Homo sapiens: one gene and its partners. The protein of the gene in region 5 purifies or fractionates together with the protein of the main gene of each other region. This does not show direct contact. Each region holds a gene or a part of one and is shown on either strand. Other genes may lie near its edges.

Region 1 (3,500 bases), on a different chromosome or scaffold from region 5:
CTCCTGCAGGGCCCTGTATTCTTTCTCTGCCCTCTGGGAAAGTACTTCTCTTTGCTTACTACCCCCTCCTACTCTTACTCTTGGGCGGGCCTGTGGGCTCCTCTGCTAGAGGGTTGTTTAACCAGAGATAAGTGTGAGGGCCGGGTAAGAGAAGGGCCTGCCGCCTCTGCAGCAGTGGCCCAAGTTAGGAGATGCATTCCTAAACTCCTATCTCCCAGAAAACACCAGTAGAGGACTGCTAGTGGGCTGCTCCCATGGGTGGTTGGGCTTCCCCAGTCTCCATGAACTGTGTAAACTCCTCCTCACCCTGAACAAGCGCTCTTTGCCTTTCTACTTGGTTCTTCATGGTAATAGTCCTCCCCATCCCTGCCAGGACTGGCTGGATTTGAGCAGAACTGGTGGGCTCAGCCCCACACCAACGGGTGGGCTTCTGGTAGGTGACTGCATGACCCTGTATCTCTGTCTTGCCTTCTTCACAGTGGTGTGCTGAGCTCCATTGGGAAGATTTTCAAAGAGGAAGGGCTGCTGGGATTCTTCGTGTACGTGAGTTTATACACCCCATAACTGGCCACGGGCATGGCTCTGCTAACAGGTGTGTCCTCAACCTCTCAGACCGCAGCTGCTGGCCTGGGACTTCACTACATGGCCCTGCCCTAGCCTGAGTGCTGCAGCCAGCTCTCCAGAGCTCCATAGCGTGTCCAAGCTGCTTAGCCCTTTTCAGGCCATGGCTCATGTAAAAGTGGAACTGTGTGTCTAGTACATGGGGGAGATGAACTGACCAGCCCCACTGGGCCTCATCCAGTTGTGGTGGGTGTGGGGCTGGTCTTCATGAGCTAAGTCACTGCATAGTCCTTGGCCTCACTGCTAAAACATGACTGAAAATCTGACTTGGACTGAGGGTGGAGCTCTGGAAGCTCACAGGCTGACCACAGCCAGTGGATTCTGTTTGACATTGCTTTTCTGACAAATTAGTTGTTGCCGTTAACATTTAAGATATGTTGCACAAAAATCCACATGTCTGGCATCTCTTGAAAAGCCAGAAAATCTTGTCCTGCTGAGCGGTTCTTTCTGTAGAGCATCCATCGGCCAGGACCCAGGACCTGCTTCTTTGGCAGGGCACATGGTCTCCGAGGGCCGCAGACACCCTGTACTTCGTCACGTCACATCCAGTGTACTTCACCTCTAAAGAAAGCACATACTGAAAAGACTAAGTTCAGAAAGAATAAGGTGCAGACAGAAGCCAGGCTTGATGAGTTGTATTTTGATTTGCCGTTTTAAGGTCTAGGCAGTGACATACATGCTGATAAGTATGTCACAAACGTGGTAGACACATGGTATACAACAGTATCCGCTGTACTAGATACAGGGCTCCATATTATTCATAAGAAGTCTTTATATCATGGTTTTCCGGTTTGTGAGATGTTTTTTATTTATGGCCCCTTGTTTAACCAATTAGTGACTACTTGTAGGTGCATGTGTGTGTATATGATATAGAAATATATATACGGTTCTCAGCAGGAGGTGATTTTGCTCCCCGGGGAACATCGGCAGTGTCCGGAGACATCTTGTGGTTGTCACAACTGGCATCTAGTGGGTAGAGGCCAGAGACGCTGCTAAACATCCTACAGTACACAGGACAGCCCCGCAACAAAGACTTATTCAGTCAGGTGTCGTTGCTTGCATCTGTGATCCCAGTTAGTTGGGATTAGTCTCAGTGGTTTCTGCAGCTGTCAGGAGACCAAGGCGGGAGGATTACTTGAGGCCAGGAGTTCAAGACCAGCCTGAGCAACATAGTGAGACTTCTGTCTCTACAAAAATGTTTTTAAAAATTAGTTGGCCGTGGCGGCATGCACCTGTAGTCCTAGCTACCCGGGAGGCTGAGGTGGGAGGATGGCTTGAGCCCAGGAGTTGGAGACTGCAGTGAGCTATGATTGCACCACTGCACTCCAGCCTGGGTGATAGAGTGAGACCCTGTCTCTTGGGGAAAAAAAAAATTATTCAGCCCAAAATGTCAATAGTGCCAAGGTTGAGAAACTCTGATTTATATTCACACACACACATATATGTATGTGTAAGTATTTATACATACATATATTTGCACATGTACCTGGTAACAAACCAACATTTGTGACATACCTATCAGCATGTATGTCACCGCCTAGACCTTAAAACAGCAAGTCAAAAAACAACTCATCAAGCCTGGCTTCTGGGTTCTGTCTGTGCTTTATTCTTTCTGAACATAGTCTTTTCAGTATGTGCTTTCTTTAGAGGTGAAGTAAGTTGGATGTGAGGTGACAAAGTGCAGGGCATCTGTGGCCCTCAGGGACCATGTGCCCTGCCAAAGGGGCAGCCCCGGGACCCCAGCCAATGGCTGCTCTACAGAAACAGCCACCCATCTTGAAACACTGCACATGACCACCTCTGGCATTTTTCACACTGCGTAGTTCTCTTCTGGTGTTTGAATAGGATTCCCGCACAACAGATGCCTACTCTTTGGGTTCTTTCTCCCCATGTGATTTTGGAACAGGTGATACTCATACATGTTACAGTGCATAGAAAGCACCAAAGGGTATAGCACAAAGTCAATCTGAGCACAGGCAGGGACGACAAGATTAGAAATTGCATTCACAGAGGTTCCTTTTATTAATACTCTTCATAGATGTATTACATATATTCTTTTGAGTTTTTCAAATATAAGATTTTTTTTTTTAATTCAAAAACAAAAATTCTGCTTCTCCTCCCAGGAGACAGCCATCCTTCTCCTGGCGAGCCTCCCAGGGCACTCTGTACCTAAACAAGCAAACACATTGTAAAAAACACAAGAGGCACATGGGACTCACTGACCTCAAACTGGCCTTTTGCCCTCAGCACTGCATCTTGGGGAACCTTCCTTAGCAGTTTATAGAGCTGTTTATCCTAAAGGCCATCACTTAAAAAGTTAGCCCTCCTTGTAAATGCTTGCATAGAATCTTTTTGATAGAATATTTTCAGGGGCAAAGAGAACAGATGCATTGAGCAGTGTGTCTTCTGAGAGTTGGTTAGGTAAAGAGGCCAGGAGAAAATTACCAACACGTCGGCACTCTTATTATCTGCATTTGGAAATTCCAAATTTGGCAGTATTCACATCTTGATCCCTGGCTTCTGTGGTTTGAAAACTGCTTGAGACTATTAGCTAATTTATGGCATCCAAAGCGGCATAGAACACCTCCCCATGGGAAAAGGAGCACTATCTTCCCAGTGTGCATAGCTGCTGGACCCTGCAGGCCTCCTTTCTAAGGCTGTGCCATTGGATATGCTAAGATTTTGAGCTCGGAACATCCCTGCCTGCTTCCTGGGTGTGGAGCCCCCAGGAACTGCTCCTCTCCCTCTCCTGCTCATCTCTGCTTACCTTGTTTTTTAGTGGATTAATCCCTCACCTCCTGGGCGATGTGGTTTTCTTGTGGGGCTGTAACCTGCTGGCCCACTTCATCAATGCCTACCTGGTGGATGACAGCGTGAGT
Region 2 (2,999 bases), on a different chromosome or scaffold from region 5:
TATAATAAAGAGCCAAAAGGATATCAAAAGGTGCAGGAAGACACCACCAGAGGCTGAGGCCGGCCCTCCATGCAGGGACCCTTCGCCAACACGGGCCTCCCCCAGACCCAGGCCCTGGTCCTCTGCCCTTCGTGGCAGGGTTTCGTGGCAGGGTTGGGGCGCAAGCTCCCCAGAGGACGAGCCAAAGCAGACTCGGATGCTGTGGACACAGCAGCACCTCCTCTCTCCCGCCAGGTGAGAGGGCTGTGGAGCGTGTCCTGGTCACGAGGCAGCACGCCCGTCAGCCTGGCCCTGGGGGCTGGACCACCTCCTGGCACCAGGCGGCTCTGCCTGCTCACAGGGTCTCTCTGGGGCTGTGCTGCGTCTAGTGTCCAGTCACTGCGACGCTCAGGTCATGGCGCCGTTCCCTCATGACCTCTGGCCTCTGCTTTACACATCTGGAATCCTGAGCCGGCCTCAGGCTTTCCTTTCAGTCACTCCCCCAGGACCAACTTCACTAATCAGGTTATCAGTGGTGTTTTTTACTTTTTAAAAAAAGCCACAATTGGATTTTGAAAAACACAGACAATGGAGGGCTGGGCCAACCATGAGGAGTGCAAAGGGCGGCACCGGCCAGTGCCCCTGGACACCCGGCTTGTCTGGCCCCTGCTCCCTGTGCTTCCTGGACACCAAACAGCATCCACCGAGGCTGGGTGAAGGCAAAAGTGTTTATTCAAGACTTTCTACCACACTGTGGGAAGCATCGATAAACAGTCATAATAATTATCATTCTGAGTCACTGCAAGCGTGGGGTTGGATGCTGGCTCTCACAGTAGCCTGTGTTGGGACCATGAGCAGCCATGCGCACCTCCACGCACGGCCGAGCTCAACCCGAAGACCACGCGTGCTCCCTGGCAGGAGCAGGAGGCCTGACCACAGACGCAGCAGCTCCCCAGCCTGAGCCTGGGAGTGCACCAGCCAGCTCGCAGCGGAGGCCGTTTCTCCTCACAGGCTGGAGTGAGCTCAGAGTCTAGAGGTCAGAGGACCTCAGACTAAGAGCTGCAACAGAACGACAGCAAGAACATTCTGGAAACGATGCCACAGTGAATCTTTTATACTGTCACTCACACTTGGTGAGGGCCTCAGACATGAAACCCTGGGGAGAGGCGAGTGTGACCTCCAGAGTTTGGCTGGGATGCGGCTGAGACAGACCTGCTGCTGGCCGAGGAGGGCAGTGGCTGGCGTGGCCCTCATGGCCAGCAGGTGCTAGGACTCCTCTGGAGGCCCAGGCGCCTGTCTAAGCTGCCGGCTGTGGACCACCTGCAGAGCTCCCCCCGCAGCCTGGCGGAGCTGGGCATCCAGGGCGCCACGGAGGTCGTTCACCTGGACATCAGGCAGGGGGTTAAGGCCAATGATGACCCCATCCCTCGGGGCCAGCTGACCCTCTGCATGAGGGCCAAGGTCCCGCCGTCGCCTCCGGAGGTCGGAGCCAGCCTGCAGTTTCAGGTCCCGGTTGGGCTTGGCATTGTCCGGCCTCTGGCCCCCCGGGACAGCTCGTTTGAGCCCCAGCTCTGGCTCTGGCCTCTGCCTGGGCTCCTGGACAGCAGCGTCCTCCCCGCCTCTCGGCTGCTCGTGGGACACAGGCACATGGTCCCCCCCGCGGGCCTTTCTCATCTCCAGGTGACCGCCATGGTCCAGCCGGTGGCCCTGCTGTCCACCCTGCTCGCCATCAGAGATGACCCGCAGTTCCGGCTGGCGTAACACAGCCTGGGGCTGTGCAGCTGCTCCTTCCGCCCCACCGGGCAGGTCCGCTGCAAGGCCCAGGTCTCGGCTCACTTGCTTGGGCTTCATGCGAGGGTCCCCCGTCTCTGCTCCTGGCCCTGCCACGAGCCAGTTGGCTTCCTTCAGAATGCTGGTGCCAGTGGCTGCCACCTCCTTCCCAGGTTTTTTCCTGTCTTGGGAACCGCCAGTAACGTCCTGACTTTGCCCAGGGAATTCCTCTGCGAGGCGCTCCTCTGGGCCCCCGGCTTCCCTGGCGGGGTCTGGCACGGGCACCTGCTCCGGGCCCTTGGGGAGCTCCTTCACAGTGCCAGCTGCCCTGGGGGCGGCATCCTTCTGGCCATCTCTCAGCTTGGCCTGGGCTGCCCGAGGCTCTGTGTCAGGGCCGCCGTCAGGAGGGCCAGCAGGGTCTCTGCCCACAGGCCCCTCAGAGTGCTCCAGGGAGCGCTGGTTAAGGTCCTGGGATGGAGCAGGGCGGCCCCCAGGAGCTCTGAGGACAGGGTCCAAAGGCAGGGGAGGCAGATTCTCCACCGTCTCCCTGGCCTTGCCTTCAGGGGCCTCCTGGCCTCTGGGCACCGCTGCCCCGGGCTCTTGATGCACCTCCACTGCAAATGAAGTCGGTCATCAATTTAGCCACAGCACTGTACACAGGCTGCCAGTGGAGGGGCTCAGAAGAACCAGCAACAACAGCATTGGGAACCAAAACCAGACTCACGCTCAGGTCTAGAGGCCACCGAGCCTCAGACCCAGCCGCATGAGGACAGCAGGAGACCCCCTGCCTGGCCCCACCCCACTCCATCCGCCAGCCCGGCCTACCCTGCCTGGGTTTATCCTCCTCGTCCTCCTGCCTCTGCTGGTGGATCTCCTTGTGCTGCTCCTCGATCACCGCCAGCAGCTTCTCCTGCTGGTCCAGCAAGCGCTTTTGCTGCACCTGCTGTTCTTTGATCACCTGAAGCAGGACGGCGTGGTCCAGCATCTCCGCCCTGCCAGCTTCTGGGTTTGGAAAGCACACAGTCAGAGTGCCCGGGCTGCTCATGCACCGTGCTGGGCCAGGGACGGCGCGGCCCACAGCAAGGCAACGCACAGGTCACCTGCAGGGAGTGTGCCCGAACACTGGCCACTGGTGACACCCATCATGACTGTGACCGTGAAGCCCGGACAGCTCAGTGATGCACGCAGGCCTGAGGGCCCGGGAGAGGCTGCGCCCTGACTGCCCCTGGAAGCCCACCCGGGATGGCCTC
Region 3 (3,500 bases), on a different chromosome or scaffold from region 5:
TGCATACCTACTATCAAAATTGTAATTGTAAATTATAATATATAATATAGAATTGTACAGAGAAAAAGTAAAACTATACTGCCCTCCTCTAACACCACTCTCTTTTCCTCTAGGGATAATTACTCTTGATGTGTATCAATCAGATTGTTTTGTATTACCCATACACATGATAAGGGTTTATTTTTAGATAAGTGGAATTATGGTATACAACTGTTCTTTGACTCCCTCCCCCTCTCTTCCCCTGCTTAACAGCATACTTTGGAACTCCTATGTCAGTGTATATATATGTCTAACCAAGAGGCTTTTCTTCTTTTTTTATTTAATAACTCAATGGTATTCCACAGTATAACTTACCATTATTTAAATCATTCCCTACTGATGGATATTTAGGATACTGCCAAATTTTCACAGTTACAAACAGTTTCACTGCAGCGAAACCTTATACATAGTTTTATACACATGTAATATTTCCCTAGAATTGTTTTCTAATAAAACTATTGGGTCAAAATGTATGCACATTTAAAAATGAGATGATTTTGGTATTCTTCAGCAAAGAGTTATACATGTGAACTCTCATTAACAGTGTATGCAAATGCCTATTTGTTAAAAGTGGATATTAAGTTCTTGCCAATCTGTCTGGTGAAAAACGGTTTACATTTCCCTAATAACCAGAGTCAATTTGAACATCTTTTCTTTTTTATTCACCAGTACTTCTTTTCCTGGGAAATGCCCATGTATAATCTTCTGCCACTTTTTGCTTTTTGTAGTGGGTACCTTTCTCTTATTGATCTTTAGGAGCTCTTTATATATTATGGATATTATGCAGTAGAAACCCTTTTATCTAATGTGATTTAGAACAATTGGTTATGTAATTTAAAAGGTTAATTTCAGGTAAACGATCATAAAAATATGTATGGCAAACATTTCACCTTCCTTTCATCAGTGGTATATATATACTCATTCAACAAACTTTGTGTGTGTGTGGTTTTGGTTTATTTATTTTTGGGGGGCTTTTTTGTTTTTTTGTTTGTTTCTGAGACAGGGTTTTGCTCTGATGCCCAGGCTGGAATGCAGTGGAGTGACCTTGGATCGCTGCAACCTCTGCCTCCCGGGCACAAGCTATCCTCCTGCCACAGCCTCCCAAGTATCTGGGACTACAGTTGTGCATCACCATGCCTGGCTAATTTTTGTTTTTGTTTTTTTGAGACAAGGTCTCACTCTGTCACCCAGGGTGGAATGCAATGACGTGAGTGATCATAGTTCACTACAACCTCCACCTACTGGGCTCAAGCAATCCTCCCACCTCAGCTTCCCCAGTAGTTGGAACCATAGGCACATGGCACCATGCCCAACTAAATTTTTGTATTTTTTGGGCTAGGCGTGGTGGCTCACGCCTGTAGTCTCAGCACTTTGGGAAGCTGAGGCAGGCAGATCACTTGAGGTCAGGAGTTTGAGACCAGCCTGGCCAACATGGCGAAACCTCATCTCTACTAAAAATACAAAAATTAGCCGGGTGTGGTGGTGGGCACCTGTAATCCCAGCTACTCGGGTGGCTGAGGCAGAAGAATCGCTTGAATCTGTGAGACGGAGGTTGTAGTGAGCCGAGATCATGCCACTGCACTCCAGCCTGGGCGACAGAGCGAGATTCCGTCTCAATAATAATAATAATAAAAATTTTCTGTAGAGATGGGGTTTCACCATGTTGCCCAGGCTGGTCTCAAACTCCTGGCCTCAAGAGATCTGCCTGCCTTGGCCTTCCAAAGTGCTGGGATTACAGGCATGACGCACTGTACCTGACCTGGGGTTTTTTTTGTTTTTGTTTTGTTTTGTTTTTTTATTTAAAGACAGGATCTCACTCTGTCTCCCAGGTTGGAATGCAGTGGTGTGATCATGACTCACTGCAACCTTGAACTCCTGGCCTCAAGCAATCCTCCTGTCTCAGCCTCCTGAGTGACTGGGGACTACAGGTGTGTGCCACCACACCCAGCTATTTTTTTTTTTTTTTTTTGAGACAGGGTCTTGCTATGTTGCTCAGGCTGGTCTTGAACTGGCTTCAAGCAATCCTCCTGCTTTGGCCCCCTAAAATGTTGGGATTACAAGCATGAGCCACCATGCCAGCCTCAAACTTTCTATATGGGGCCAAGAGGCCAAGACCTTTTTCTCTAACTCCAGGCCCATTGATTTTACATTTGACAAGTAATGTGAGTATAAAACCCTTTTAGATGGCTGGTGCGGTGGCTCACACCTATAACCCCAGCACTCTGGGAGGCCAAGGCGGGCGGATCACGAGGTCAGGAGATCGAGACCATCCTGGCTAACACGGTGAAACCCTGTCTCTACTAAAAATACAAAAAAATTAGCCAGGTGTGGTGGAGGGCGCCTGTAGTCAGGAGAATGGCGTGAACCCGGGAGGTGGAGCTTACAGTGAGCCGAGATCACGCCACTGCACTCCAGCCTGGGCAAAAGAGCGAGACTCCATCTCAAAAAATAAAATAAAATAAAATAAAATAAAACTCTTTTAGATTTTTATATTTTTTCCACGTATCTTGTATAGTCATCTTACCCACATTTAAGCGGACAGTATTTTTTTTTGCAACTTGTTTTCATTAACTCTTCTCAAAACAATTTGTTTCATCATAATGAATCTAATGTAACCATCACCCAGCTTCAACAGTTATTCATATGTGCTGAATTGTGTTTCTTCCATACTACCCACAACCCACCTCCATCCCTCACCCCTTGTATAATGTTAAGCAAATCCCAGACATCATATTATTTCATTTGTAAATTTTCAGTAAAAAGAACTCCAATCTCCCCCACTCATATATTGTCAGGTTACAACATATTAAACAAATTACCTTTTAAAAACAAATACAAGCAGGCTTAGCACGGTGGCTCACGCCTGTAATCCCAGCATTCTGGGAGGCTGAGGCAAGTGGATCACCTGAGGTCAGGAGTTCAAGACCAGCCTGGCCAACATGGCAAAACCCCGTCTCTACTAAAAATACAAAAAAAATTAGCCAGGCATGGTGGTGGGCACCTATAATCCCAGCTACTCGGGAGGCTAAGGCAGGAGAATTGCTTGAACCCAGGAGGCAGAGGTTGCAGTGAGCCGAGATTGCACCATTGCACTCCAGCCTGGGCAACAAGAGCAAAACTCCATCTCAAAAACAAACAAACCAACCAACAAACAAAAAAACAAATACAACCAACATATACAGGTTTAGTAGTAAAAAAATTTACTGTACTGGTAGGTAAACAAGCACGCTGGAGTACTGGAGATCAACCAACTAATACCAAGTATTCAGTGTACACTGTATTTTACAAAGGAAATAAAAATTATTCAATGTGGTGAGTCAATTAAGTGGAGGTCAATTAAAGCTTCTAATGCATATGTAGAAGCTTTTTCATTTTTATTTATTTTATTTATTTATTTTTTGAGACAGGGTCTCGCTCTATCACCCAGGCCAGAGTGCAGTGGTGCAATCATAGCTCTCTGC
Region 4 (3,500 bases), on a different chromosome or scaffold from region 5:
GGCCAAGGTAGGAGAATTGTTTCAACCCAGGATTTCAAGACCAGCCTGGGCAACACAGTAACACCCTGTGTCAAAAAAAAAAAAAAAAAAGTATTTGCTATTCGTTCACTGCTATCTTAGTGAGTCCTTACTGGGGGTGGGGGGGTGGGGTGGGGATCACATCCCTCAGGTGCACTGCAGCAGACAAATGTTGCAAACTTGTGTCATAAGGTAAAATGACAATTACTTAAAATTACAAGCTACTTCTTTTTTTGTTTTTTTTTTAAGACAGGGTCTCACCCTGTCACAAAGACTAGAGCGTAGTGGCACAAACATGGCTCACCGTAGCCTCAACCTCCTGGGCTCATGTGATCCTCCCACCTCAGCTTCCCAACTACCTGGGACCACAGGCACACACCACCATGCCAGCCTAATTGTTTTATTTTTTGTAGACTGGTCTCTAACTCCTGGACTCAAGTAATCTTCCAGCCCTAGCCTCCCAAAGTGCTGGGAAAAGAGGTGAGAGCCACTATGCCCAGCCACCACAGGCTACTTGTAGTCTACATTCTATAAATATCGGCTCACTTCTCTTAGCCTTATTACGTTACCAGCTGTGAGGCAGTTTGGCATGAGGAAAGAGGCTGACTCTGGGGTCAGAGCCACCCCACACCCTTCCTAGAGAAGTTCCTGCTAACCTGAGTCTCGGTTTTCTTCTTCGCCAACACCATCATCACCACAGCAGGCAACACAACCAATTAGGGGGACATCCATACTTTTATTCACTAAGTTAAATAAATGTCAAGCTGTAGGCCTATTGTGGGCATTAAGCCATATATATTTTAAAGACACTCACAAATATTGCCCTCCATCTTCCTTTTCCATAATAAGACCTTGCTCACTGTGACATGTACTTATGTGCCACAGCTAAGGCCTTTCACATTCATGACATGTTCTGCAGTTGTATGTAATTAGAGCTGGTAAATGTGGCCTCACACCCCTTAACAGGAGACTCATATGACTAATACTTTTGTATATATACTATCAACTATAGCTACTGTTGGTTTAAAATAAAATTTCTAACTTTTCAGTCATTATTGGCAAGCAATATGCCAACATGTTTACTTTGCCTGTGTTTAGGAATTTCCCAAGTCTCCTTTTCCCAGGAGAGGACTACCACAAGTCACCACTGCCCAGAATATCAGTTTCCAACACTAGGACCCCCCATCGGGCACCTTGAATAAATCTATTAATCATTATTCCTTGTTTATGGATATTAACCAAATTCATAGCAGTTACAAATGAGTAAAATAGAAGGTTCTGTAAGAATGAAACATGAAAACCACTGTATGTTTTTAGGTATTTCAGTACTAAGGAGCAAGCCCTCTCCCAAAAGACTCCTCTCATCTCCCTATTATCTTTGAAAATATTTAATAACTGCACTTAAGTAATTCTTAGCCTTATTAAATTCATAACTCATATAATAGTTAAGATTGTAAGAGACTGTAAGAACCTATTAATAATAAATCCAATAATTCATTTACCACCCAGTACTAACTTCCTTAACCCATTCTTAGACCTAGCTGATTGCAGATTAAAAAGCAAAACAAAGCCAGGTGTAGTGGCACGCATCTGTAGTTCCTGAAAGGATGGCTTGAGCCTAGGAGTTCAAGACCAGCCTAGCCAACAGAGTCAGACTCCATCTCTTTTTTTTTTTTTTTTGAGACAAAGTCCCACTCTTGTCCCCCAGGCTGGAATGCAATGGCTCAATCTCAGCTCACTGCAACCTCCACCTCCCAGGTTCAAGTGATTCCCCTGCCTCAGCCTCCCAAGTAGCTGGGATCACAGGCATGGGCCACCATACCCAGCTAATTTTGTATTTTAATAGAGACAGGATTTCGCCATGTTGGCCAGGCTGGTCTTGAACTCCTGACCTCAGGTAATCCACCTGCCTTGGCCTCCCAAAGTGCTGGGATTATAGGCCTGAGCCACCGTGCCTGGCCAGCTAGTTAAGTTTTAATGAGATTTGGCTACTTTTTCCTCTGTCGGTTTTGATATTAAGTTTTCAGTTGGTTAGGTTAAAATCCAGAGGCTCTGGGTTAATACTAATATGCAAATACTTAACTAGAGCTAAAAATGTGATGGAATTGCTTCTTCATAGTTTTCAATCACATGGGATGAATCACATGCCCATTCATTCAGAAGTACCACCAATAAAACTTTTCTACAAATTAGTGTCCACTCCTGGATCAGCATCCTATAAGCAAGTACTTCTATTCAATTACGATTTTTAAAAGTTAGCTAGTCAGGAGGTAAAAACAACTTTTTGGCCTTTCTCTTCCTTTCCAAAAGGTAGGACTAGATCCCTAAGCAGTTAATATTACTGGAACTTATCAAGTTAATGTTTGCTGAGTAAAAGAATAATTTGGCTTAAATATGAACTAGAGAGCCGCAGTACATGGGCAAACATCCAAATAAGGAAAAGGGGGCGGGCGCAGTGGCTCATGTCAGTAATCCCAGCACTTTGGGAGGCCGAGGTGGGCGGATCACCTGAGGTCAGGAGTTCAAGACCACCTGGCCAACATGGCAAAACCCAGTCTCTGCTAAAAATACAAAACTCAGCCAGGCATGGTGGCGGGTGCCTGTAATTCCAGCTACTCAGGAGGCGGAGGCAGAAGAATCGCTTGAAACCGGGAGGCGGAAGTTGCAGTGAGCCAAGATCTTGACACTGCATTCCAGCCTGGGCAACAAAAGCGAAACTTTGTCTCAAACACACACACACACATACACACACACACACACACACACACACACACACACACGAAAACGGTTCTAGTTAGGACTGGAATAAGTAAGTAGATGTCCACTAAGCTGTACTGGCCACAGCAAGCTGTGACAGGGCTATAAGTATCTTAGGCTGAAATCTCTGTTCAGTAAACTAACCCATTTCTTTGTTTTGGAGCTCTTTCTGAAGGGAAGTCTCGTGAAACACTTCCTTGAATTCCAAACACAGTTGTTTGGAAAAATCCCAACTGGATCTACAGAAGTCCCAAGGCTGACAAGCCAAGACAGTTAGAGAGATTAATGTGTCCTTAGCAGTCAATAGTGTCTGGGCAGCATCTCGGGGAAGGAATTACAACTTTGCAGAAATTCCAGTGTCGGGCAGTGGCTGTAGATCACTTCTGATTTGACAGTCCTCTTACAGCCATGTTCTCTAAGCCATGCTAAAACCCAGTAATTCCTTACTTCTCCTTGCTGCGTTATGAACATAATACTAACACTAGCAGTCATCCCTGAATACCTGCTGTTAGGCATTGCTATACATTTTCTTCACAGTCCTATGAAAGAGGTATCATTATCCACATCTCACAACTAAGCAAACAGCCTCAGAGAAGAAAAGTAACTTTCCCTGGTCAAAGCTACCAAATATTCAAACTAAGGTTTCTCTGAAGGATCACATGACCCTTCCTCTAGATAGTACTTTGCAGACACTATCTTCCAAGGGCTGTTAAAAAAATATTGGT
Region 5 (4,123 bases):
AGAACAATAAATTTTTTGTACAGGAACTTTTTGCTTTAGGGTAAGCAGAAGTTCATTTATTTAAAGAGATAAATCTATCCGTTGTGACTTAGTAGTACAAATGAAGTAGGCAAACAATTTTAATAAGGAAAAGATGATTAAAATATTAAACAGGAGGAAGTTAATTAAAGACATAGTAGCTGGCTCCATTTATTCCCCAGTCTTACAAATGATAGAAAAATATTTTAATGACAATACAAATGAAAATTCCTGGAAATGTTATACTGAAATTAATTAAACACAATAAAGTGAATGGAATATAGTATTCTTTTTGTTGAATTAGGACTTGCAGTTAATTATTAAACACCATCCAAGAGTGTTACCAAATCCTGTCACTTCTGCCAAGAGAGGGTGATTGAGAAGTGAAGGCACCAAAAATCACATTAAATGAGGAATTATTAATTCAATAAATACTTGAGCTACTGTGTAGTAGGCAGTCCCTGTTCTCTGTGCTGGGGATACAGCAGTGAACAAAATAGACTAAAAGACAAAAAATGTTTCCTGCCTTCTTGGAGATTATATTCTATGGGAGGAGTCGGGCAAAAATCAAAATAAGTAAAATAGTGTGTTGGTCAGGACTGTTATGGGAAAAAAAAGAGGAAAGGGGAAGGGAGTTTTACATGAATAGATTTCTTCTTGAAATTTGGTTAGATTTGTCCTGAATTGCTGTAGGTCAAGAACAGGAATTTTAGACTTACTTCATTTTTCCCCCAACAAATTGTATGTTCTTGGGTAAATTGCTCGCCATCTCTTAATTTTCACATTTATAAAATTAGTAGATCAAAACAGCTATTTTTTGTCACTACTGTCATTTAACAGAAATGCTGCATACGTCATCTAATCTACTAATAACAAACTTATGAGGTAAGTAACGTTGTCCCCATTTGACACACGAGCAAACTGAGGTTTAGATTAGGCAACTCATTGGATTACATGCTCCTCTTAATGGCACAGAGGGTGTGTTCCAGGACATGGTGCTTGCCATTATCATTTGGTACTGCTGCTCACTGTGTTGGTCCTATGAGTTTCTTCAGTCTATGAATTTCAGGTCAGGGTGGTCGACGTCTTACAGAGATGCCTGTAATCCTGTCAGCATGAGATTGCATGGGACCTCTGCGGTTTGGTCGCGCATTTACCGCGCCTGTCGCTGGGTCAGACGACCTGGCAGTAGAGGGTGAAGGATGGAGAAGGCAGAAGGCAGGGCACGGAGACTACTAGTCCCAGGATTCCACGGGCGCCTTCCGGCGGAAAGTGTTTGTCATATGGGCGGGGACCCTGGACGACATTCGGGCCGCGGCGGCCGCTGGGTGCAGCCGAGCGGTGTGGAGCGGAGAGAATACTCGAAGGGCTCTCCTGATACTAACAGTTTTACGATTTAAAACTTCGCCAGAATTTGTAAGTAAACAAAATGACTATGCAGCTTTTCCATGTTTTAGTATTGAAACTGATATCTTGAATTTTTGAAAAGGACTTTCAGAAACGGTCCCTCCCCACCCCCACCTTCGTACCGCACAAATGGTATTTTTATTTTTATTGTTTTTGAGACAGGTACTTGCCCTGTCACCGAGGCTAGAGTACAGTGGCGTGATCATAGCTCACCACAGCCTCATACTTCTGGGCTCAAGGGATCCTCCCGCCTCAGCCTCCCAAGTAGCTGGAACTACAGGCCCGCACCACCATGCCCTACTAATTACTTTATTTTTTATTTTTATAGCGACAGGGTCTCACTGTATTGCCCAGGTTGGTCTCGAACTCCTGGCTTCAAGCGATTCTCCCACCTCAGCCTCCCAAAGTGCTGGGATTACAGGCGTGAGCCACCACGCCTGGCCTCACTCAAACAGTAAACGAGGTAGGTTGGGGGTATATTTTTGTTTTGGGATAAAAAGAAACTGAATCTTATAAATATTAAATGGGTTAAGATGTGAGTAAATTTTTGGGTTTAGACTTTAAGGTGAGAAGCCGAATTATTTTAGGGTTCGAAATGTGAGTGGGAAATTTGCCTACTAGTGTAGGCGGCGATTACTCCATTCCCAACATGCCTAGGTTCTCGACATTCATAATCTTAATCCTGAAAAGATAATACTTAAAAAAAAAAAAAATTGGTGCTAAAAAGGGCAAAGTTGAAGTTTTAGTAAGACCTCCTACCATTTTGCTTACATATTATATATGTACCATTCTCCCAATTGTATTTAATACCTGATGAAAAAGTTTGTGCCTTTTCCTTCTTTTAACAAATTTCATAGTACTCTCTACTTTATGAGTAATGCTTAATTATCAGACTTTATACTGTTACACAGATCCAGAAATGAGTTACATAGATTAAACATACTGGCTTTGTTTTACCTGTCTTTAGGTTTTAACACATTTTATTTTGGATCTGTATGAGAGATCCTTTCTTTGTTTTAAGCTGTGGCAGTTATCCATGTTTTTTGAGCTTTTTTTTTTGAGCACAAGATGAGGATATAAAAGGCCAGTGGAAACATTTAATAAAAAAAGGAACTTCATGGTAGAGTAACTACAGATGTTTTTGGAAGACTTTGTGTGGATTAGAATAGTTTGAAAAACTAACATTTGTTATGAAAACTGAGTGCCTGTCTTCAGTAATGTTTATTATGCTGAACGTGCAGTCCACAACTTGATTACCTGTTTTTCTGCTGGTTTGTTACGCAACCTTGCGTGACTCATTTAAGAACTATTTTATCTAGTTTCTTTCCTAATGTAGAGGTAATGCTAGCTTGAGAGCTTCAATAATTTATAAATAAATTAACTTCAGAATGTAGCTAATTATTTGAGGATTATTGGGTGTTTTAATAATGTATTGTATCTTGTATATAACTTATTTTTGCCTAAGAAGTAATTTCTGTATTCCATTCATTTCCATGGAACACAGAAGTCAAAATTCTATTCCAGGAAAGTCCACACTTCTTTGAAGTGCCACTTGAATTTCCTGAAGGAATGTTTGCTTCAAAAAGCCTTGTCTGCTTTATCACTTTGAGGTTGTTCACTAAGTCAACTGTGAAGGCCCATAAACTTGGAGATTCGACAACTTCCAAAAAAATTTAAAGAATGAAGAATTGGCTGTTTTATTTACCATTTAGAATTTTGATTGTGTTAAAATTTCATTAATATTTCTACATCATATGAACTACTGGATTAAACTGTGTCCTACAAGAAGGAATTCATAGGGCGATCATATATTACCATAAATTTTGCACAGAAATCAAGCACTTGGGAATAAGGAAGCGTGTCCCTAACATTGGTAATGAGCATAGACTGGAGTCATAGCTGGGTTTGAATTCCTATTTTGTTACTGTGTGGGCTGTTTTCCTCTTTACTAATATTTAAAGGAGCTGGCACATGATTTTTTTTTTTTTGGTGCCATGGCTCTGGTATGAACTGTGCACATAATTTTGGTAATCGAAATTTCTGGGAAGAAAATTCACCTATAACTCCACTACCTCAACAAATCAAATTGTTTGATTTTTAGAGATTTTCCTTCAGCCCTTGACCATGAGTATCTATCATGTAAATGTAATGACATTTTTGGAAAAAGTCAAATTTTGAAACATTGGTGTCTTCTGGGGTTTTAATTATATAAATGAAGCTGTCTGGTTTTGCCTTTAATAGTTCAAATAATAATTATTTACGGTTTTTGAGGACTTCTTTTGTGCCCCTGTGGTTGCCAGTATTGCACATTATCTCATTTGATCTTCACACTGCCTCTTTCATCTAAGTACTATTATTCCATTTTGTAATTAAGAAAACCAAGGAAAAAATTAGCCAGGGGCTGGGTGCAGTGGCTCACGCCTATAGTCCCAGCACTTTGGGAGGCCAAGGTGGGTGGATCACTTGAGGTCAGGAGTTTGAGACCAACCTGGCCAACATGGTGAAACCCTGTCCCTACTAAAAATACAAAGAAATTAGCTGGGCGTGGTGGCGGGCACCTGTAATCCCAGCTTCTCGGGAGGCTTGAGGCAGGAGAATCATTTGAACCTGGGAGGCGGAGGTTACAGTGAGCTGAGTACGCGCCATTGCACTCCAGCCTGGGCGACAGAGCGAGACTCCATCTCAAAAACAAAACAAA
Region 6 (3,500 bases), on a different chromosome or scaffold from region 5:
GACTTCTTATGTATGCTTTCATATGTATGCTTTGTTTTTATTTTTACTCCCATCGATTTAAAGACAAACTCATTATTCTGTTCTCTACCCCTATTTTCCTACTTTTTGAATAGCAATCAACCAGTCTAACTTACTCTATCTTTTCCATGTTGATTGGTCTGATTATCATTTTCCAAGTCTTCAAGGATAAGTTAGAAAGAAATAGGTGTAAGATCAGAGATTGGGCACAGTGGCTCACGCCTGTAATCCCAACACTTTGGGAGGCTAAAGCAGGCGATCACTTGAGATCAGGAGTTCAAGACCAGCCTGACCAACTTGGTGAAACCCCGTCTCTACTAAAAATACAAAAATTAGCTGGGCATGGTGGAGGCCGCCTGTAATCCCAGCTACTTGGGAGGCTGAGGCAGGAGAATTACTTGAACCTGGGAGGCAGTCATCGCAGTGAGCCGAGATGGCATCACTGCACTCCAGCCTGGGTGACAAAGTTAGACTCTGTCTCAAAAAAAAAAAAAAGACTAGAAAACATCCAAAGTAATTGCAGTCTAAGTCAGAGTAAGGTTAGTTTTAAGTACGTAATCTTTGCTGTCAGACCCCCTGGTTTCTTTTTAATATACTTAACTAATCTTTTGCATTTTTCTGATTGCACACAGGTCTGCAATTAAGGCCTTACGTCCTGGAGGGATACTTGTATACTCTACATGCACGCTTTCCAAGGCAGAAAATCAAGATGTGATCAGTGAAATTTTAAACTCCCACGGTAACATCATGCCTATGGACATTAAAGGAATAGCAAGGACTTGCTCCCACGACTTCACATTTGCTCCCACTGGCCAGGAATGTGGGCTCTTAGTGATTCCAGATAAGGGCAAAGCCTGGGGCCCAATGTATGTAGCCAAATTGAAGAAATCATGGAGCACAGGAAAATGGTGACATGAATTTGTAAACTGTGTTTATGTGTTATTATATTTATATTTCTGAACTCAGTACATGTTAATATTTAAATAATTATGCAGTAACTTTCTCTGGGTCTGTTTGGAATCCTATTTAGTTAATACTTTAGCATCTTAGAATCTAGGCTTGAGAATTGTTCAGGTGTATTTTTTTCCTAGAAATATATCTGTAACAATGATTTAAGGTGGTGCAGATGGTGTTTGTTCTATATTATAAATCTGCTGTCTTTGCTTGGCATTTTATAGTTAAATTAATTAGAATATGTGGTTTTATGCATAACGTGTTTAGTTCTGTATTCTTTCTATGATAGTGCTTTGAACCTTCAAAAATTCACATTTTCCAGCGCTCCGACCATTTTCCCGCTTATCAAATGTACAAATTTGTTCAAGGTTTTTTTTTCCCCCCAACTTTTGTAACTGATTGTCTCAGAACTGATTGGTATTCTGAGACTAACTTTTTAAGCAGCACTATTTCTAGTTCTGGCAAAATAGTTTTTTTATTTGCAATGTTGTTTTCTGTTAAAGACTATATTATGTTTACTGCAAAGGTCAGTGACTCTACTGACACCAGCTTTATTTCCCCCACTTTTTTTGCATTCACAAATACAAATTGAAAGGGTAAATTATATTGAAAGGCCTTTAGAACAGCAGATTCACATGCACATGTTTGACTTTCGACATTCAGCTTATAGAATTATGGAGTCTATCCAGCAGGCTATAAAGCAAGTACTTGAGACAAAACCGGAATGATTAATAACTGCAATCACTGAACTATATTTGGAGAGTTTTGTTACATAATTGCAGTCATAATGAGCACTACAGAATCTGATTATCTTACATTCACAATCTGGAGGGGCTTTTTATTTCACTTTGTTATAAAATGTTCTCTGAGAATATGATGCCACATATTAATGCACAAGAGGGAGATGCCTAATGAGAGTGGACTGTGTGATTACCAGAACCCAGTGCCATTTACTAAGTGGCTCTCCATGTTTACATAAATCCTGGGAATACTGTATACATTTCTTCTTATGTACTTAGGGTTTTAGCTTCAGTCAGCATCACACTTTTTCTCCAGAAATTACTTCACTTAGAGTACAAACATATTTTTCCAACTATTAAGAAAAATTATGCAGCACATCTCAAAAAATAGCATCTCTTTGGAAAATAGCCTTTAAAAAAAAACAACTTTATCTGATTATAGAAATACAAAATTCTGCTAAAGCTGAATACTTTTGAATTGTTCATTATGTTCTGTGCCTTTAAACTAGAGACTATTTGCTTATTAATATTTTTTGTTTTGCAAGCATATGTAACCCGGTTTATATCATCAGGAAGTCTTAGGAAGAATTTTTTTTTCTGTACCTTCAGTCTGTTAATCATTTGTTTTCCTTTATGTCCAATTGATATGTTTAAAGTAAAGCTAAAGTCCAGGCACGGTGGCTTATGCCTGTAATCCCAGCACTTTGTCAGGCCGAGGCAGGGGGCATCTCCTGAGGTCAGAAGTTCGAGACTAGCCTGCCCAACATGGTAAAACCCCGACTCTACTAAAAATGCAAAAAAATTAGACAGGCATGGTGGCTGGCACCAGCAATCCCAGCTACTTAGGAGGCTGAGGCAGGAGAATCACTTGAACCCAGGAGGCAGAGGTTGCAGTTAGCCAAGATCTCGCCATTGCACTCCAGCCTGGGCGACAAGAGTGAAACCCCGTAGCAAAAAAATAATAATAATAGTAATTAAATAAAAATAAAGTAACGCTAGAACTGTTGGACCAAATCAAGTATATGGGTAAATACAGAAGAATAATGATGGTGGAAAAGATGTTTTCTTTTTTAAGTTATCATTATTAGTTTGTTTTTTTTATCTTCAGACACTATAGGTTTTAAAAATAGGTTTCTTTTATGTAGGTTAATCACAGAGTAAATCTGCACACTGTACTTTGTTAAATGTCGGTATTTTCCCAGTATAATGCGATGAAGCTTAATCTGAATACTTGGTATGCTATTGAATTTACTTTCCTATGATTACTGAAAAATGGATGCACGTGTGTGTGTGTGTGTGTGTGTGTGTGTGTATATATATATATATATATAATTTTATTAAAAGCAATTGCCCCAAAAGCAGAAATTGACAAGCGGGACCTAATTAAACTGAAGAGCTTCTGCACAGCAAACTAAACTATCAACAGAGTAGCAGACAACTTACAGGATGGGAGAAATATTTGCAAATTATGCATCTGCCAAAGGTCTAATATCCAGAATCTATAAGGAACTTAAATCAGCAAGCAAAAAACAAATAACCCTATTAAAAACTGAGCAAAGGACATGAACAGACATTTCTCAAAAGAAGACATTCACATGGCCAACAAACATATGAAAAAGTGCTCTTCATCACTAATCATCAGAGAAATGCAAATCAAAACCACACTGAGATAATATTTTACACCAGTCAGAATGGCTATTATTAAAAAGTCAATAAAATAAAAAATAACAGACGCTGATGAGGCTGTGGAGAAAAGGAACTGCTTATGAACTGTTGGTGGAAATGTAA
Region 7 (3,500 bases), on a different chromosome or scaffold from region 5:
GGAGACAGGAAAAACCACCCTTCCCTGAGCATCTGCCACGGGCAGGGCTGCAAAAAGCCTCTCCTGGCAGGTGCCAACGTGCAGCCCCTCCCCAGCCCTATTCTGGGCCTGGGTCCCACCACACTCGGGGGCTTCCCACAGCTCTCAGGATCATGTTGCAGCCTCTGCCTGGGCCTGTCCCTGCCGGCCCCTGTCCCTGCTGGCCCCTGTGGCTTCATCGCACTCCTCTTTCGTCCTTGCCCACAGTGCTCTGAGAACAGTGCCTTCTTCTGCCCCTAGAACTCAGCCTCTCCCTGCCTCAGGCCCCTGGCACAGACTGATACGCATTCCCAGAATACTTGTCCCACCACACTGGCACCGTGTCTTCATTCTGAAACCTCCACTGAAATGTCACTGCCACCCCCTTCCCGGATGCCCCCAACCTGCACATGCCCCATCACGCACTCTCTGAGCTCCCTTTACCCACCACCAGCAGTGATGAAACCAGTATTCATAGACCTGATTCCTGTAGGTCTGTGTCTCCCCACTAGGCCATGAGCCCCCAGGGCAGGGACTCAGCTTGTCTTGTGCTGCTGCTGCCCAGCATGGCATCCAAGCCCTTCTCTAGAATGGAAGAGGCTGCTCCTCTACCCCCGCACCTTCTATAACGTCACCAGACACACAACAGAGTCCTGTAGAAAATCCATAAACAGGGAGAGGACACAGCAAGACGGCAAAAGAGGAAGCTCAAAGGCCCTTGTTCCCCCACAGAGAAACACTAAAAACAACTAGAGACTGGTTAAAATATTGCATAGGAGCTCTGCAAAACAGGCAACGATCTACAGCAACCAAGAGAATGCCCAGCCCAGAAGCAGCCACATTCAGGATGTCAGGAACTCTGAGGTGTTTCACTCACCCCTGCCCCAGGCCTCCCCAGCATGGCACCACCTGATGAATGCGGCAGCCCGGTTCCCAATTCCTTCCCTTGAACTGGAGGGAGCAGAGCGGACCTTTCTGCAACATCCTAATCTGTCTTGGGCTGCCTGAGGAACAGATCTCTGTTTCACCTGACTCTGAGCTCAGAGCCCAGATAGGAAGTCAGGGAAATGGTTATGGGCACTGCTAGGCAAAGCTGTAGGATGACTATAGCCCCACGCATACCTGGGGCAAGAATGACAGGTGAGAAATACAGTAGAACATCTGAGGCCCAAGGAGGGACTGGGGGAGACTTTGAGAAAGTAAGATATATATATATATATATAAAGCTTTGTAAAAGTTTAATGGAGCCAACAAGGCAAATAAATTGTGTTCCGGCAGACATTAAGACCTGCTTTCTCTTACCAAAAAATAAGGGCACACATTTTTATCAAAATTCGATAATTCAGAGTTAAGGGTACTGAGATTAAGCTTCAAAGCACCAACTTAAACCAAACAGCAATGAAAAATTGGTTATTCAACTTGGAAAGAGGAACTAAAACCAAGGCATAAAGGGGAGATTAAATATGTGTTCCTTGATCTCAAAGTCCTTTTAGGAGCAGGAGTTCTGGCCACATGTGAGCAACACATCACACCACCAAACCCCAATTCCAGAATCTAAATTTACAATGATAGAAAAACAAAGGTTACTCCAAATGCATTTCTTGGTATATTCCAAAGGGAAGCTTGAAAGTATTCATAATGAAAGTAAGAGATTTTGAAACAGCCACGAATATGGGGAAATTGAAAAAAACACATACACAGGCCCAGGGAAGATGCATCCTCAGAAGAAACCAGAGGAAACTTTGGCCTTCATCCAGAGCTGATCCCCACACTTAGGCAGATCCTGCTATTTGGTGGGGGCCATTCCCAATACAGAGTTAGTCTTCAAAGACTGGGACAAGGAGCTGTTTTTCAAATGCCCAATGTTCAGCAAAAAAATCACACGGCATACAAAGAAACAGGAAAACACAGCTCATTCAGAGGAAGAAAATGAAGTGGCAGAACCCATCCCTGAAGAAATGCAGGCACTGGATGTACTTGACCAAGACTAAAAATGACTGTCTTAAATATGCTAAAAGAGCTGAAGGAAAACAGATAAAGAATGAAAAGAAATCAAGAAAATAACATATGACAACAAAATGAGAAATTATAAAAAGGAATCAAACAGAAATTGTGGAGCTGAGAAATACAAAACTGAACTGAAAACTCTGACCAGAGGGATTTGAGTCGGTAGAAGAATCAGCAAACTTCAACATAGCACATTTGAAAATATCAAGTCAGAGGAACAAAAAGAATGAGGAAAGTGAGCAGAGCCTCAGGGACTTAGGGGCCTCCCTCACGTGCACCATGCACATTATGGAAATCTAAGAAAGAGAAGAGAGAATGGGGCAGAGAAATTATGTGAAGAAAGAATAGCTAAAAACCTCCCAAATTTGACTAAAGACATGAATATAAACATCCAAGAAGCTCAGTAAACCCCACGTAAGATAAACCCAAAGAGACCAACATGAAGACACAATATAATCAAACTGTGTAAAGACAAAGGCAGAATATTGAAAGCAGCAAAAGAATGGCTCATGATGTACAAAGAATCCTCAATAACACTGTTAGCCAATGTCTTAGCAGAAACCTCAGAGGCCAGAGGCAGTGGGAAGATACCCCCAAACTGCTAAAACAAACAAACAAAAAAATCTGTCAACAGAGAATTCTACATTCAGCAAAACTGTCCTTCACAAATGAGGGAGAAATTAAGACACTTCCAGATTAATAAAAGATGTGCGTGTTCATTGCCACTAGATCTGCCCTACCAGACTACTAAAGGGAGTCCTGAAAGTTAAAACAAAAGGGCACTAGACAGCAGCTAAAAGCTGTAAGAAAATACAAACATTTCCAGCAAAGGCAAATGGAGGGACAAATATAGAAACTAGTATTAGTGTACAATTGGTCTGCAACACTACTTAATATTTTCTTCAGGATTTAAAAGATATATGCATAAAAATAATTACAGGTTTATGTTAATGGGTACATACCCAATATATATAGATGTAATCTGTGACATCAATAACAAAGTGGGGGTAGATGGAATTGTAAAGGAGAGGTTACTGTGTCTGACTGAAATTAAGTTGATATCAATTTAAAATAGATTGCTATAACTTCAGGCTGTTATGTATGTAATCCCTATGGTTGTAACCACAATGGAAATGTCTGTAGCATATACACAAAAGGAACTGAGAAGGGAATCAAAAACGGAAACTACAAATAATCAACTAAATACAAAATAAGGTAGTAATGAAGGACAAAAAAAGCTATAAAATATATATAAATAACAAAACATCAAAAACAAGTCCTTCCCTATGAGTAATTACTTTAAATATAAATGGATTAACTCCTTAATCAAGAGACACAGATTGACAGAATAGATTAAAAAACAAGACCTGACTACAGCTGACCCTCAAACAACATGGGTTTGAACTGCACAGGTCTACTTATATCCAGATTTTCTTCCACTCCTGCCACCTCTGAGACAGCAAGATCAACCTTTC

Evidence for each region.
Region 1: the proteins of TOR1AIP2 (region 5) and MTCH1 purify together in Homo sapiens (affinity purification with mass spectrometry; 2 studies listed by BioGRID and IntAct, with this or other methods). This does not show direct contact.
Region 2: the proteins of TOR1AIP2 (region 5) and SLC38A10 purify together in Homo sapiens (affinity purification with mass spectrometry; 2 studies listed by BioGRID and IntAct, with this or other methods). This does not show direct contact.
Region 3: the proteins of TOR1AIP2 (region 5) and ACSL4 purify together in Homo sapiens (co-immunoprecipitation; 3 studies listed by BioGRID and IntAct, with this or other methods). This does not show direct contact.
Region 4: the proteins of TOR1AIP2 (region 5) and SLC25A30 purify together in Homo sapiens (affinity purification with mass spectrometry; 2 studies listed by BioGRID and IntAct, with this or other methods). This does not show direct contact.
Region 6: the proteins of TOR1AIP2 (region 5) and NSUN3 purify together in Homo sapiens (affinity purification with mass spectrometry; 2 studies listed by BioGRID and IntAct, with this or other methods). This does not show direct contact.
Region 7: the proteins of TOR1AIP2 (region 5) and ENTPD6 purify together in Homo sapiens (co-immunoprecipitation; 2 studies listed by BioGRID and IntAct, with this or other methods). This does not show direct contact.

The regions. Positions count from the first base shown.
Region 1 is NC_000006.12:36,972,697-36,976,196, reverse strand, and holds part of MTCH1 (mitochondrial carrier homolog 1), read left to right. Parts: intron 1-479; coding exon 480-539; intron 540-3,400; coding exon 3,401-3,500.
Region 2 is NC_000017.11:81,244,311-81,247,309, forward strand, and holds the end of SLC38A10 (solute carrier family 38 member 10), read right to left. Parts: intron 2,752-2,999; coding exon 2,575-2,751; intron 2,364-2,574; coding exon 1,246-2,363; 3' UTR 501-1,245; downstream 1-500. UniProt on the Homo sapiens protein: Facilitates bidirectional transport of amino acids. May act as a glutamate sensor that regulates glutamate-glutamine cycle and mTOR signaling in the brain. The transport mechanism remains to be elucidated.
Region 3 is NC_000023.11:109,723,258-109,726,757, forward strand, and holds part of ACSL4 (long-chain-fatty-acid--CoA ligase 4), read right to left. Parts: intron 1-3,500. UniProt on the Homo sapiens protein: Catalyzes the conversion of long-chain fatty acids to their active form acyl-CoA for both synthesis of cellular lipids, and degradation via beta-oxidation. Preferentially activates arachidonate and eicosapentaenoate as substrates.
Region 4 is NC_000013.11:45,411,874-45,415,373, forward strand, and holds part of SLC25A30 (kidney mitochondrial carrier protein 1), read right to left. Parts: intron 66-3,500; exon of another isoform or gene 1-65. UniProt on the Homo sapiens protein: Antiporter that transports inorganic anions (sulfate, sulfite, thiosulfate and phosphate) and, to a lesser extent, a variety of dicarboxylates (e.g. malonate, malate and citramalate) and, even more so, aspartate.
Region 5 is NC_000001.11:179,875,004-179,879,126, reverse strand, and holds the start of TOR1AIP2 (torsin-1A-interacting protein 2), read left to right. Parts: upstream 1-1,323; 5' UTR 1,324-1,434; intron 1,435-1,753; 5' UTR 1,754-1,888; intron 1,889-4,123. UniProt on the Homo sapiens protein: Required for endoplasmic reticulum integrity. Regulates the distribution of TOR1A between the endoplasmic reticulum and the nuclear envelope as well as induces TOR1A, TOR1B and TOR3A ATPase activity.
Region 6 is NC_000003.12:94,125,561-94,129,060, forward strand, and holds part of NSUN3 (tRNA (cytosine(34)-C(5))-methyltransferase, mitochondrial), read left to right. Parts: intron 1-650; coding exon 651-930; 3' UTR 931-3,500. UniProt on the Homo sapiens protein: Mitochondrial tRNA methyltransferase that mediates methylation of cytosine to 5-methylcytosine (m5C) at position 34 of mt-tRNA(Met). mt-tRNA(Met) methylation at cytosine(34) takes place at the wobble position of the anticodon and initiates the formation of 5-formylcytosine (f(5)c) at this position. mt-tRNA(Met) containing the f(5)c modification at the wobble position enables recognition of the AUA codon in addition to the AUG codon, expanding codon recognition in mitochondrial translation.
Region 7 is NC_000020.11:25,202,212-25,205,711, reverse strand, and holds part of ENTPD6 (ectonucleoside triphosphate diphosphohydrolase 6), read right to left. Parts: intron 1-3,500. UniProt on the Homo sapiens protein: Catalyzes the hydrolysis of nucleoside triphosphates and diphosphates in a calcium- or magnesium-dependent manner.